Regions from separate parts of the Homo sapiens genome. Here region 1 is linked to region 2. Evidence: fine-mapped expression QTL. Tissue or cell type: prefrontal cortex. Region 2 holds a variant in brackets; the other region holds the start of a gene. All regions are shown on one strand. Distances are between the middles of the regions.

Region 1 (8,190 bases), 190 kb after region 2:
TTCTCTCTCTCTCTCTCTCTCTCCCCCCTTTCCCCTTTCTCTCTGCTTTTTGGGGTGTATTTTTTGTAAAAATATCTCTTTTATTCTTGTTTTCCTGTTATAACTCTGTACCTTTTTAAAATAACACTGCTAAGCAAAAATATTGTATTGAGGATACAGTTTGTATTTCTGGTACTTACAATGTTATGATAAGAGAACAATCTAATTTCATTTGGAACAAAATCAAACTTTAAAAGGTAAAAAAAAAAATTCTGAAGAGTTCATTCAATTTGCTGTCAAATTCATTGTCAAAATGCTTAACAAATGCATTCCAATTCAGTAAAATATATGACCCATAATCGTATATACAGGGCAATTTTCAGTTATTGGGTGACGTTTATAGTTTATCAATAATCTGATTTCCATAACCTATACACTTAACTTTCTGAGAATGAGCTAAATTAACCAACTGGGTATTTTTAAATAACTAAATCTACATCTAAATCTATATACCCTTGGGCATGTTGAATGTTTTTCTTGTTCATTTCTGCTTAAAGGGGACAAGTATTATAATAAAGGAAATTATCTATAATTGTAAATTCTTATTCATGATAATCTGGGAATTAGCTGCAAATTTCTGGAGACATTATCTTCTTCTGATTTCAACTGCAAAATGCAACAATTACAAGTAGTTTTTCAGAGTAAATATTATTAATATTACTTCTACTATATACCTAATAATGCACTTTTCTCAAACACTTATTGAAAAAATTTTACTTTTAAGTTTACTTTTATTTAAACTATTTTATGTAATATATGAAATTATTCCACCTTTTTTAGATATTTAAAGTTTTAATGTTATTTTTTAAAAATCCACCTTAGCTTCCCACTGGGCGGTTAATAGAAACATTCCAAAGCAATGAGCACCAGTCAGAAGTAAAGCTCTTAAAACAGGACAAGAAGAAATGGGTGGGAAGCTGGAATGAGAACATTCATCAGCAGCTCAAAGCACAGACTTCTAAGGGAATCTTTCCTCACCCTCTGCCTCTTTGGTAAGCCCTCACGTGTTGAAGATGACTTCCATTTATTGGTCTTTCCTCTTCACACATTATAATGTACTCTTTCTAAAAAATAGTAGGTCATTTATATCTTACTATTATTGAGTCCCAATATCATCTAATTTTATCATCAACATAATGTTACAGGAATATTACTGCTTTTGGGGAAACTACATGCAACAGACATCATTCCAGGCACAGGAGCTAAAACTATTAAGAACATACACCTCTTGCTCTCAAGTTGTGTGCAAGCTAGCAGGAAGGGCTGAGAGAAAAACAGGTAAGCATCATGTCATGTGATAATTCTAGATCTGGGATAAGCACACAATTCCATGGGACTGTAGTGTAGGAATGCAGGAATGCCTAACATAAGGTTGGAAAACAGATAAAGCTTGCTGAAGAGTGTGATGTCTATGCTTAGACCTAATGAATGAATCTGAATTGGCCTGGATGGCTTTCCAGGCAGAGGGAAGTGCCTGTGGCATGTGGACAATGGCAAGTAGTAAAGCATGACAGGATAAACATGACAAATAGACAGGAGAGTGGACGATCCAAAAGCAAAGCCAGAGAAACAATGTTCTCTATAGTTCAAGACAGGGATTTTTACCTTACACTTGAGGCAATAGAGAGCCAGTGAAGGGTTTCCACTGGATTCATATTATGGAAATGCTTGGCTGCAAACGGGGTTGTACTAGAGCCAGACACCAATTAGCAAACTATTGTAGTTATTCAGAGATTTGTGTGACCTGCTCTAGGGAATGGCTACACCCGAGACAGCTATTCTTTCTGAAGCTGGAAGAGACAAAACACAATTTTAATAGAGAACCAGACCATAACTCAGAGTTGGAACCTCAATAAGGCAAATGAAGCACTCATTTCAAAGGGATATCAACAGAGTCAAGATAAATAATGTTTGCGGTGATTTTTTAAATAAGTGCAAAAAATCAATGAAGAACAAAATATCAAAATTTTAAATAATGACATGAACTGAATTTTTTGGGAAAATTTGTGTAAATAAACTAATTCTCCCATGCATTGGGTTCCTTTGCCCCTCATACTTAGGCAATTTCAGTTTTTATGCTCAGCGTTGTTGACCATCTAACTCACCTTGGAAGTCGAGACAGAACACCAGCTGAGATTGACGTTAAAGCATCATCCAGGCGACCTGGTGGCTTTCCTTTGAGAATCCAGCTGACAACAAGTTCAAGCAGCATCAAAGAAATGAAAAATGGAGTTGCCTGGAAAGGAAGTTGCAGAAAAGAGATGCTATTATGTTCCATATGAAATTATTTTACATTTCCTGATTAGTCATTTCAGAATTGAAAGGCCCAGATTTGGGAAGCCCTGCAGGAGATGGTAGACACTCATTTTAGAGGATTACTTCCTACACAGTGGTAAAGAAGTCTAATTATTTTAGACATACACTAAACATGTGCTCAAATTCTATCATCCAATTTGAATATGAAATGTAATCATAGATATAACCACGATAATTATAATATTATAAGATTAAGAGGAACATCTTCCAAATTAGTTTAAAAAATACATTTAGAATAAGGTAGATAATTAGAGGTCTATTGTCTCTACATGTATAATTTAGACCCACTTCAAGAGGCTTTCCTTAAAGATGCACATAATTCTAATTTTTCATATTAGACTTACCAGAACTATTTCTAATGATGAAATTCAAAGAGTAGAGACAATTTTCTGCTTAGAATTTTAGAGAATATGGTAATTTTACATGTTTGCTTAAAACATGATTCAGATTTTATTCATTTGGTTTTGATTTTTGTTTCACATAATAAGAGATGTTTTGAAAGCTCCACTATTGGTGATGGAGCATTGAATTTGGTTTGATATTGCAGTATAAACAATAATAATTTATGAAGATATCAGTGCCACTTTTTTTAACTTAAAAACTCAGAAAGAAAGTGTAATATCTAATCTTGAAAAAGATACGGATTTTACTCATTTGGAAGCTAATCATGAGTTTTGAAGCTTTCTAAACTGAACTCTCAATAACATATTCTATGATGTCATTTTTTTTCTATTTCTGCCATGAACTAGTGAGTGTTGTAGGAATAACTTTGATAGGGTGGGGAACTTCAGTATTCAAGTTCTAATTCTGGATATTTCCACTTCCAATCATAGCCAGGAACCAGAAGTGAAATGTGCCTCTGAGCACTTCAGAGTTTCAAAGAAAACTTGGGTCAAATTCAAACTTAGGAAGTCAGAGCTGGACCTGGTCAAGCTGCATATCCTTCATTCTGCTGAACTACTCTACCAAATGAAAGAGGAAATAGTTTCCCTGGAAGGGGTGGACAAGTGAAAGATTTAAAAATGAAATTGTTACAAAGTTTACTGATGTGGTGTAACTATTTGTCATTGAGCTTCCAATAGCTACATTTACAATGCCATGGAGTCCAGGAAAACTTTAAACTTTTGTTTTTGTCATATTCTGGAGTGACATATAAAAGAGGGAATTTACAGGTGAAGATGGCTATGGATTGTAAGAAAATTCAAGTGGAAATTCTACTTTTGCTTCACGCCTTTAAGAAACTGAATTATTATTATTAGAATGTAATCATTTGAATAATGAAAGTGAACAAAACCCTAAGGAGATTGACCTTACCATTTATTAAGAAAGCAGCAAGAATAAGAGTAGCCTCTTCCAATAAAGTCTCACCTTTTTTACATAATCAGGCACCTCTTCTAATGTTTGGAATGAAGTTTCACTGGGTTTCATCGTGTAAAACAACATGCGAAATCCCTGGGAAACTGAAACATCCTGCTGGGCTTCTGGGTTCTTCATTTCTGCCCTTGTCTGATTCCCAGCTGGAGAATATTTAGGATTCAATGCTTGAAGCCTGAGGCTGAACAAAGAGGACGAGATGTGCAGCTCAGAACAAGCTCTTTGTCAGAGAACAGCTAAAACCAAAGCTCCACTGAGAGCACACTCAACAGCCGATTCTGTGTAGAGAGACAGGAAAATACAAGGATCAAGAACAAGTACAGAGTTCAGTGGGCGCTGGGCCAGAAACAGGGCATGTGGGGGAGGGAAAAGAGGACTCATACCCAAATCAAAGTCATACAGTGCAGTTTGACTGTAGGTGGAGCAAGTTACTACTTAAAAAAGAAGAGAAAAAACATCATAATAGTGTCTCGGAAAGAAAAAAGTGATAACGCAGGTATATGTTCACTCTGAAAAACTGGATAGAAATTCAAGCATCAAGTCACATAGAAAAACCTTTTTTTCTCCTCATTTAGAAATTTACAATGTGTTCAAGCTTGTAGTTTCTTTATTTCCTACAGAGACTGTGTATAGGCGAGCTACTTAATAATAGCTTGAAAGTCAGTAAGCACTGAATATCTGGCTCCTTATTGCCTATCTATATTTCTGTATCTGAATCATGTTATTACCACTTCTGAATGTTTGCAACCAGTTTAGGGGCATTTGGCTTATTACATAATCTACATTATTTAATGGAAAATTGGCTAGTCACATCTTCTCTATTCTTCTTAGTACTTATGGGAACTTTCTGATTAAAGAAGGTGCCAAGATGTTGCTGTGAGACCTGTTTCTGTTTTACAGAAAGAGCTTAAGTGATTGTACCTTTTAAGTAGATTAGAAGGCACTTAATTTATTACATTACCAGTGAATATGTGGAGCTTGCCAGAATAGCCTCAGCTCTTTACCCAAAACAGCTGTAATCATCCTTTAGCTGCCATTTCATCATTTAAAGATGTTTACATAGATCTAATTAAAGTATCAATGCACGATTGTTTTAGAAAAATATAGAAACTATAGATAAGCAATAATAAGCTGCCCAAAACGCTATTAACATTTTGGTACATGTATGGTCAGTTTTGCTATAATGTGATATATCCATTCCTAAAAATCACTATACTGTACAAAATTGTGCAATAAAAACCACGGGACTTGTGAGAAAAAATGTGATTAGGGTAAAATACTCAAAAACTTCATAATGACCCACAAGGAACAAGAAAAAAAGGATGAGAGCCTAATAAAAATGGTAGCACACTTTCACACGTTACATGGTTAAGATATACATAAATACTAAAATAAATATGATGCTTTACCTTGAAAAAGACCTGAAACTTGTTTTGGAAATTAGGCATTGGAAGATTTGCAAACTGCAAGTTACTTTAGCTTGTTGAAATGTGGGTTATCTGAAATCAGACAGAAAGTTGCAATATGACATATGGGTGTCAAGGCTCACAACACACAGGTGAAGTGAGGGTGTTACTATAAGTGGTGGGTGTATTTTGTGCATCCTAAGCCTTTCTGTTTTTCAGTTCAGTTTTTTAAAGTTCAACTACTCTTTTTCACTGAAAATAAAATCACACATGAGCATAGGCAGTATGCTCAAATTATTTTCTGGTATATTAATCACATTGGAACAAATTTAATCTCAAAGCACATGTTATAGCAGAATTGACTGTCCTTTCAGACCATTCCCATTACCAATAAGTACATATGGACATTAATTTTTAATAAAGGTGTCTGGGCGTGGTGGCTCACACCTGTAATCCCAGCCAGTACTTTGGGAGGCCGAGACGGGCTGATCACCTGAGGTCAGGTGTTTGAGATCAGCCTGGCCAACATGGCAAAACCCCGTGTCTACTAAAAATACAAAAATTAGCTGGGTGTGGTGATGGGCACCTGTAGTCCCAGCTATTCGGGAGGCTGAGGCAGGAGAATTGCTTGAACCCAAGAGGTGGAGGTTGCAGAGAGTGGAGATTTTGCCATTGCACTCCAGGCTGGGGGACAGAGCAAGACTCTGTCACAAAAACAAAAAAAAATTTAATAAAAATGATCATAGTAGGCATACTGTTTTATTACCTGCTTTCAAAACAATTTTGGAAATTAACAATGTGATACAAGAGAAAAAAATACAAACAATATAGCTGTATATAAAGTCAAAAGTGGCAGCATCCTTTCTTCTCAATATATGCACACCTTGCACTTCACTTCATAGGGATAACATATCCTCTTGGTGGGGTTTTTTTTTTTTTTTTTTTTTGCCATATCTGTTTTTTCCTAAAAGGGATAGTTATTATCATTATTACTATACAAATACGTTTCTATATACACATAATGGTTCGATTTTGCAATGGACCTTATCAAACATAAGATACAGCAAGTTCCTTCTTGGAGTCAATAACTTACCAGGAACATTTCTTTTTTAGTATATGATTATACAGGTACAGCCTTTTCTTCGTTGTTTTTACTGGCTGCAAAAGTGTGTGTGTGCATTTCAATGAGCAAAACAAAATTATTTCTAACTTTTTAAAGCAGAAGCAATTTTATACAAGAAAAAAGTTGTTACATAGATGATGGGAGAAGTAAAAAACCAAGCAGGAACAAAGAGGTAATCTAGAGATTAGTACCAATAGGAAGCCACTACCATTGTTAAATTGTAGGGACAAATGGAGAAGGTTGTATTAGTAGGGCCCAGGGGCTATGGTCATCTAGGAAAAGTTAGAACCACCATTGGCTTGTCTAGCAAGAGTATTTCCCATGGAGCAAAGCCAATCAAAGCCAGAAATAATACCCATGGCAGAGAGGGAAGAAAGGGAAGTACTATGGCTTCTCCCTTCTTCCTGCCCACCAGTCTCCCAACAGTACTTCCCATTAGGCTATGACATGGTTGGATTTGCGTCCTGGCCCAAATCTCATGTCAAATTGAAATCCCCAGTGTTGGAGGAGGGGCCTCGTGGGAGATGATTGGATCATGGGGGTAGATTGCCCTCTTGCTGTTCTCCTGATAGTGAGTGAGTTCTCAAGAGATTGGTTGTTTAAAAGTGTGTAGCACCTCCCTCTTCTGTCTCGTCCTCCTGCTCTGGTCATGTAAGGCACACCTGTTTCCCCTTCTGCAGTGATTGAAAGTTACTTGAGGCCTCCCTAGCAATTATTCCTGTACAGCCTGCAGAACTATGAGGCAACTAAAACTCTTTTCTTTACAGATTACTCAATCTCAGATTGTTCTTTACAGCAGTGTGAGAATAGACTAATACAAGCTAAATGAGTCAAAAGCCAGTTGACAGAAAAAGCTAGAAAAAGAAGCCTGCTGAAGGTAACCTCTTACTACACACAGTGCTGAAGGAGAAAGGGAGGGAAGAATCAATCTATGGAAAAAGTCAACCAAGAACCAGCACACCATCATAACTTATTTAATTACTCCTCTATTGTTGTGTGTGTAAACGCAGTCTTCCATTTTTAACTAATAAATTTAATGCAACAATAAACATCATGGTATAAATATTTATACATTTTGCACATTTTTTGTTACATAGATTCCTAGCAGCGGAATTATGCTATGAAGATGATGTAAAATTTACCCTTTGATAATTACTGCCGAATTCCCCTTTCAGATTGCCTTCCCCTCCACACTCTTGCTAACACTGGCTATTATTAATCTTTCATAATTTTTAGCCAATTAGTTAATGAAAAAATGGTATCTTGTTTTAATTTGCATCTCACTAATGACACTGAACATCTTTCAGTACATTTATTAATGTTTTTTTGCTTCTTAATCTGAAATTTATTTTTTAATATGAGCTGCACATTATTTTATTTCATTGTCATTATTGGTTTATAGGCCATTTGTATTATAAATATATAATTCTATGTACAGTATATATATTCTGATATATGTGACAAGTATTTTCTCATTTCATATTCACTAGTTATCTATATGTTGTCATACTGCAATTGTAACTTTGTGTGTGCTGTTATCCTTTGTTACCTCTGCTTTTGGATCTTGCTTATGAACATTTCCCTTGCCAGAATTCCGTAAGAATAATCTTCTGATTTTTTTTTTTTGGAGCATTTAAAAGATTTCTGTTGTTTCAATTATCTGGAATTTAGTTTTCCATATGGTATGTAGTAATTATTTGACTTTTTACCTTGCCTTTATGGATCACAGTTCTTGCCACACCATTAGTCAGTCAATACTTTCCCCACTATTCTATGTACCTGTACTATTTCCAGGCTCTTCATTCAGCTCTATGGATGTTTTTATCTACTCTTATGCTAGTACCATGTTGTCTTCATTATTGTACTGTCATAATAAATTCTGGTAACTTGTAGAACAATTTATCATGCTTGAATTTTATTACTCAAAAATAT
Region 2 (8,190 bases):
CTGGGATTATAGGCGTGAGCCACTGAACCCAGCCAACGGCTGATTTTTGTATTTTTTTTTGTAGAGATGGGTTTTCACCACATTGTCCAGGCTGGTCTCAAACTCCTGGACTCAAGTCTGGCCTCAGCCTCCCAATGTACTGGGATTTATAGGCATGAGCCACCACACCTCATCTAATACCAATATTTTATATTCCTCAAACTTTAAAATAAATTCAACTAAATTATTCAATCAATAGTTTAATATTAAATTATTAAGTGTTTCTAAATATTAAATATTTAAATATTAAGTACCTTAATATTTATCCCTTTAATTCCTTAAAAAACAGAATATCCCAAAAATGAGTTTAAAAGAAACTGAGAATATTGAAGAGGGAATTCAACATAGAACACATATGCTTAATTTAGGGTTCATTTTCCTATGGAACTTAAGTTTTTCTATATAGTATCCTTTGATAGACTACTAAGGGAGATAATCAGTTGAACGTCTCTAAAGTCTAACATGCGGCTGGGTGTGGTGGCTCATGCGTGTAATCCCAGCACTTTACGACGCTGAGGTGAGCGGATCACTTGAGGTCAGGAGTTCAGGACCAGTCTGGCCAACACGGTGAAATCCCGTCTCTACTAAAAATACAAAAATTAGCCAGGCATGGTGGCACACACCTGTAGTCCCAGCTACTTGGGCAGCTGAGGCAGGAGTAAACTACTGTTTGAACCTGGGAAGCAGAGGTTGCAGTGAGGCAAGATCATGCCATTGCACTCCAGCCTGTGCGTCACAGCGAGACTCTGTCTCAAAAATAAATAAATAAATAAATTCTACAAATTCATTCCATGAATATATATTGAATATGTGCTGGGCACTATGGTAAATATGAGTTTGAGTAACCAAGAACAACAAAATCCCTGCCCTTGAATTCATACCACCTTAGTATTTGCCCGTAAGACCACTGGCCAACTACACTAGAGCAAAAGAAAAAAAAATAGAATTTATAGGTTTTGAAGACTATAAATATTTAGTCTCCTGTGTTTTAAACAATATGTGAAATCACACGTAGCTTATTAGTTTTTTATAACAGGGAGGATTTTATTTTTTCATTTAATTTACTCCCATTTCAAATTATATACTGCTGGTTTATCTTTCATATAAAGTATCTCTGTCCTAAAGTGCTAAATTGAAATTATTCTAAATTAGTTCCATTTTAATTTGGACGTATGATCGGTTCTTAATCACAGAAAGCATTTGGGAAAGATCATAACCATAAATAGCTTTATGAGGCAATAAATTATTTTTCCTTTTTAAAAATTATCTGTCAAGTTTCACTACTGTGTGGTGGCTCATGCCTATAATCCCAGCACTTTGGGAAGCTGAGGTCGGCAATTCACTTGAGGCCAGGAGTTCGAGACCAGCCTGGCCAACATGGCAAAACCCCATCTCTACTAAAAACACAAAAATAATACAAAAATTATCTGGGCATGGTGGCGGTACTTGCCTTTAATTCCAGCTACTTGGGAGGTTAAGGCACAAGAACTGATTGAAACTGGGAGGAGGTGGTTTCAGTGAGCTGAGATGGCACCACAGCACTCCAGCCTGGACAACAGAGTGATATTCTGTCTCAAAAAAAAAAAAAATTATTTGGTAGCTCGTTTTCATAGGTTTCCCAGTGCAAGGATGATGGTTTACATTTGCAGCCCCAATTACGCCTGCAGAACCCTATCTACTCCAACTTTCTTTAAATAGATGGGAAAAAAATACTTAGGAAAAGGTATCATTAACAACACAAAAACAGCAGAATTACATGTTTGACGCCATGTTACTTAATCAATGAATGTGTGGGAATTCTTCTTTTGCCCACAGATATTATAAAGAAGAAAGCCCTTTTCTTCTTGAAGAGGACTATCACTGTCTTACTCTTGCATGGGAAAACCTTAGGGGTCAATACAACCTCCTCTCACATTTCTCCACCAAACAAACCTCACAAAGGAGGTATCAAACTCAGTCACTACATCCTAAAATAACAGTATGTTTCCATATGAAAAAATTCTTTTTTTAAACTTTATGCATTGTCAAAGATGATTTGATAATATTTTCCATAATTTTATTCTAAGGCTTTAGAAATGAAAATCTCTAGATTTTCTTATTAAAACAAGTTGGTACGTTTTTAGTAGTTTCTCTAAAAGGTGCCTGACAAGGTCTACAAAAGTTATTATTTTGATTAATGCTCATCTTCTCAGACATCTGTAAAATGAGGCTAATATTGCCTAACACTGAAACCTCTACAATCTCTGCTGTGAAGGCAGCAGATTGGCTTTCTTGGCATACTTATCCCTGCTGCCATTATTAATATCTCTGCAGCTCTGAGGGCCCCAATCTTCCAGACACTGTGAGCTTGCGGATTTGTTATGCTGAATCCGAAGGCTTGAAGATGCTTCTCAGTGTTACAACATAAACACAAGAGCAGAATCCAATGTGACACCATACTGCAATGTATAATTATATGTGAGTCTCAAGAATCTGTCTTGAAAGAATTTCTTGCTCTTTAAAATAATTGTCAATATTGGCTATCTTATTCTTTTCCCTACTTTTTCAGAACTCCCTAGGTGGCTACCACTAAAGCATACTAAGAGGAATATAATTACAGTAAACATTTGCTAGAATTTCAAGCAAGAAGCAAACATAATAAATATATCAAAGGTGAAAATATATTGGCTAAAAAAGTATAATTAACATATAGTTCAAAACATTGAATTGACATGGAGTTCATCAGTTTCTACAAAAAATTGTAAGAAATAAAAGCCAAAGATTACATTGTATTTTATAAATACCAAAATATTAGATATGTAACAATTATATTTGACACTATGGTTCTACTCCATTAAAATATGAATGTGTACCTGATAAGATAGAGAACTTCACCCTCCTACCTGGAAAAACAAACAATAGCAATATATCTGAAATGATTGTTTTCAAATCACAGGGCACAAGGCAAAAAAGAACAGCGATCTCAGGGAAATAGGATACAAATGACATGATCCATATTGCACCAGTTTCCCACCTTGAGAGTTTCTAGGTTACAATACAGAGGGACCCAGAGGAGCTTGGTGGATTCCCTGAATTGTGGA[G/T]AAAGAGCCAGGATTTGAGAGAAACCAAGAAGGCTAGCATTTGGAAAATAGAGTACCAAAAAAGGAAGAGTTATGCATAGAGAACCCTAAAAATTTGCAGAGTGTCGGTCAAGTCTTTAGCAAGTCAGCTCATGCGTGATACCCTGAAGAAATTATCCAAGGGCAAAAAAGGATCAGAGTTACAATGCCCAGTATGTGTGTAATGCATACTCCTACCAGACAGACTGGAAAATCTCATGATTCACTGGACATTCACTAAGTAGAGAACACCAAAGGGTTGTGCCTCAGTATTGGGTAGTAATTGGTCCAAGACTGAAAACCTCTAGAAAAGAAAGATCCTACAACAGTTGCCAAAAGAGTCTGTTGTTAACATATTATCTTTTTTGAATGCTCCATAAAACTATTTTGTGGGAGCCACTCTGAATAATCTGTATTTGCCTCAAGATCAAATTTCCTTGCACTTTTAATAGGAAACTTTTATTTTCTTACTAAGAAACAAGTGGATCTACAAACTAAATACCTTTTCATTATTTTCCAAAATACAGAAGAGAAAAGATGTTAAAAGACTGTTTCAGAGACAGATCAGACTTTCTTTCTAAAAGGATTTTTTTTTTTTTTTTTTTTTTTTTTTGAGACAGAGTCTTGCTCTGTTGCCTAGGCTGGAGTGCAGTAGCACAATCTTGGCTTCTGCACAACCTCTAACTCCTGGGTTCAAGTGATTCTCTTGCCTCAGCCTCCAGAGTAGCTGGGATTACAGACACCTGCCACCGCACCCAGCTAATTTTTGTATTTTTAGCAGAGGCGGAGGTTCTCCACCTTGGCCAGACAGGTCTCAAACTCCTGACCTCAAGTGATCCACCCACCTCGGCCTCCTAAAGTGCTGGATTACAGGCGTAAGCCACTGTGCCCAGCCTCTTCACGTGGAATACTTTTAATGAGGAAATGTAACTCCAAAGAACTGCGCATTTAGACTTGGGAGTTTCCAAAACAGAATTAAATTGCTTAATTTTTACATACACTTAACAAATCTAAGTGAGGTTATGATTTAAATTATGAGGAGGTTATCATTGTGTTTGTTATGTAACTTTTTAAAGAAGCTGCCTGATCCTCACCAAATTAGAAAACACTTATAGTGATATGAAGATATATTTAATTTCAAAGTTAACATTCTATTATTTGATGCATATACTATTAAATGTGTAATTTCCCAGTTTATCAATGTATTTAAATGTAGTGGACAAAAAATAATGTATTTAGGAAAATACAATGATCACTTTTCTACATTTCTGTAGTCTATGCTTACTTGAAAGGTAGCTTTTGTTAATAGTCTTCCGTTACTACAAATCCATTACATTCATTTCATGCCTTTGTATTATAATTGATGCTCATTTTGGCCCACATTCCTTTTTTTTCCCCCACATTACGTAACTTAGTTACCACCGAAAATCTTAAGGAAATGAAATCCCAAGGGGATAGACTAGAGAAAAACAGTATACCCTGGACATTGACTTGAAAACTTTCATGAAGAACCTAAGCTAGATCTAATTTGTGCAGGTGGCACTCTCTGCTGTAAGAGTCGACCAAAATATATTGATTTTTTTACAGGTTTTTTTCAGCAGCTTTATTAAAAAACGCCAACATGAAAATATTAGTTACAAAATTGTAGTGCCCATAATGTTTTACAGAGTATGGCATTCAGGGGAATTAAAAACCATAAAAATGTTTCCAAATTTATATTGGATACTCTCAGATGCCCTGTAACTTGAAATATATCATCAAAGTAATCTGTGTTCAAATGTATCTGCAGTAACTTTATTACATATCCTATTATAAGACCTTATTGAATATTCAAACTGTTTTTTGTGTGTTTATTAGTTAAAAGAAGCATTGCCTTTTCAATTTTAGTTTGTAGAACATGCTAGTGCAATACATATTATACATATTTTTATTTCCAACATGTACTCATGATATCACCCCAGGAAGTGGACACTGGCAGCTGAGGAATTGATTTTTCAAGGATTACTAAACCAAAATCAACATAAAAGTCCGTGGGTCATATCACTAAACTAAACACTATATATTTAAATATATGCTTTGCAAGTTTCAGTAAGAAAGGAATGTGTCTCTTACACCTTTGTCGTGGCCATCAAATTGCTCTCTTGACTCCCAAAGTTATTTATATAGAACTTGCATACATAAAACAAGTAAGTATTTATCTTCTCTAATATATGCATAAACAGAAAAGACTGTGGGACCACAGCAGGGTCCCCAATTACAAGTCAGCCACAACTTTTCTGTGTGATTATTGGCTACAGTGAATCTGGAAAAAAATATTGCTGTTGGATTTTAATGTCTTTGTATGCTTTTAGACATCCCTGAGATTAGAAAGGCACTATAGAATTTTGCAAATAAACAACCTTTCTTCCTAGTCACACAGCATGTTCTCAGCAAAGAAAAACACATGTGGGAAACAAGCAAATACAACTTTCAAAATTAATTTGTGTCAGGAATGAAGCTGTCTCCAACTCTACTTTCAGTTTGTAAAGGGTTTCAACACTTGATATTTCTCTTCGTCAATATATCTACATGAGTTTCTCATATATTTTTTCATGACAGTAGAGAAATCTTGAGAAAACCATGCTGTAAGTCACATATTTTAATGTACACAGTGTCTGGCTACATTTTTACCCAGGAAGCACTCACTCATGCCCAGGCATTCAAATGTTAATGGCCACTATTTCAAATTTAACATGGAGGCTCACATAGCTTAAAATGAGTAAGTCTCCATCTTTTGTTTCTATGAATCAGTATAATTTATTTAGAGATTTTATTTAATACAACTAAGAAAAATCAACAATGCGAACTGTACTCAACATTGGTTAGTATATCAACAGTTGGATATTTAGACACAGATGACCCTGGCTTTTCTTTTGGTCTCATTCAACTATTTAAGCTCTATTAATGATGTAGATTTTAGTTCTACTTGGGGAGAACATATTAAGTTAATATATTAAACAAAGTAGTTAAGTGAGGGGTTATGAGACCTTACTTAAACAAATATGAAGTCTAAGCATTTTGGTGGTTTGATGTTTAGGTGTGCACTGCCAAGCGTAATGTGGTTCATGCCACAGTTATAAAAGCTTTGGTCCAAAAAGAAATTCTTGGTTTCAAATTTTGTCATTTTGGGGGCTAAAGCCAAATAAACCTGGTACACTATGCAATTTGTTTCATCATTAGCTCTAGCACAGGTAAGAAAAACAAACAGTAACTATATGTCCAATCATTACATTTTCAAAAAACTTCTGGCCCCATAGTATCCTAGTTCCTGCATTTGCTTCACAAAATGGAAACAAGAATCTAACTCATTGTTTTCTGCTACAGTAATACAAGTCGATTTCATGTTTCCCTGTGGCTTTTTATTTTAAAAAATTATATTTGGACAGACAGCACATACAAACTTATCTATTGTTTAAAATTTGGGTTCCTATATGAAGAATAATTTGGTTACTAACTTTGAACACACGCACAAAATAAATATATATGGACAACACCAATCATTAAAGTTTTAAAATAATGTTAAAATTAAAATGGTTTTTGTTGGTTTAATGTCTGTTTTGTCAGAAACTTGGGATTGCATCCCATCCTTCTGTTTTCCAATTGCTTGGTAGTGTTTTCTCCGTCCCTTTATGGGATCAAATCAACAAGGATTCCTAACTATCCTAAATATGTATGCACCCAACACAGGAGCACCCAGATTTATTAAGCAAGTTCTTAGAGATCTTCAAAGAGATTTAGACTCCCACACAATAATAGTGGGAGACTTTACTACCCCACTGACAATATTAGATCATCCAGACAGAGAATTAACAAAGATATGCAGCACCTGAACTCAGCACTAGACCAAATGGACCTGATAGATACAGTCAGAACTCTCCACCCAGAGTTCTGGGTGGCAAAATTCTATAGTGCCTTTCTAATCTCAGTGATGTCTAAAAGCATACAAAGACATTAAAATCCAACAGAATTTACATTCTTCTCATCGCTACATGACACATAATCTAAAATCAATCACAAAAATGAAAGTAAAACACTACTCAGCAAATGCAAAAGAACTGAAATCATAACCCACATTCTTTCAGACCACAGCACAATTAGAAATTAAGACTAAGAAATTCACTCAAAACCATACAATTACATGGAAACTGAATAACCTGCTCCTGAATCACTTTTCGGTAAATGATGAAATTAAGGCAAAAGTTTCAAAGAAGTTCTTTGAAACTAATGAGAACAAAGACACAACACACAACATACCAGAATCTCTAGGACACAGCTAAGGCAGTGTTAAGAGAGAAATTTATAGCACTAGAAGTCCACATCAAGAAGTCAGAAACATCTCAAGTTCACAACCTAGTATCACGACTAAATAACTAGAGAAATCAAGAGCAAAGAAATCCCAAAGCTATCACAAGACAATAACCAAAATCACAGCTGAAGCAAAGGAGATTGAGACATGAAAAACCATTGGAAAGATCAACAAATCCAGGAGCTGTTTTGGGGAAAACATTAATCAAGTAGAAAAACTGTTAATTAGATTGATAAAGAAGAAACAGAAGATTCAAATAAACAGTATCAAAAACAAGGAGGTTATTATCAATGACCCCACAGAAGTACAAACAACAATCAGAAAATATTATGAACACTTACATGCACATACACTAGAAAATCTAGACGAATTTCCTGGATACATACACCCTCCTAAGACTGAACCAGGAAGATATTAAAACCCTAAAGAGAACAATAGTGAGCTCTAAAATTGAGGCAGTAACAAATAACCTACCAATCAACAAAAGCCCAGCACCAGACAGATTCACAGCTGAATTCTACCAGAGGTACAAAGAAGAGCTGGTACCATTTCTACTGAAACTATTCCAAAAACTTCAGGCCAATATCCTTGACTGACAGTAATGCAAAAATTCTCAATAAAATACTGGCAAACCAAATCTAGCATCACATCAAAAAGCTTATCCACCATGATTAAATGGGCTTTATCCCTGGGTGCAAGGTTGGTTCA

Which allele goes with the higher level. Positions count from the first base shown, and alleles are read on the strand shown. Sizes are in standard deviations (SD) of each study's normalised expression.
For the expression in prefrontal cortex of the gene that starts at base 4,019 in region 1, T is the low allele of the variant in region 2 and G is the other (small effect, 0.32 SD a copy in CommonMind).

What was found. PIP is the estimated chance that this variant, and not a neighbour inherited with it, causes the effect.
Region 1: it holds the start of AGMO, and the variant in region 2 is fine-mapped to the expression of AGMO in prefrontal cortex (CommonMind, PIP 0.95).

The regions. Positions count from the first base shown.
Region 1 is chr7:15,557,997-15,566,186 of GRCh38, forward strand. AGMO (alkylglycerol monooxygenase) reads right to left here and starts at 4,019. Exons shown (of 13, transcript NM_001004320.2): 1 at 3,724-4,019; 2 at 2,145-2,275. The coding sequence starts at 3,849. It overlaps LOC124901591 (a long non-coding RNA gene), which reads left to right and starts at 861. Exons shown (of 3, transcript XR_007060217.1): 1 at 861-1,031; 2 at 1,185-1,317; 3 at 2,100-2,204.
Region 2 is chr7:15,371,664-15,379,853 of GRCh38, forward strand. All of the region lies in intron 10 of AGMO (alkylglycerol monooxygenase), which reads right to left. Among named protein-coding and RNA genes, the nearest start is that of AGMO, 190 kb to the right of the region's middle. The variant G/T (reference allele first, on the strand shown) is at 3,120.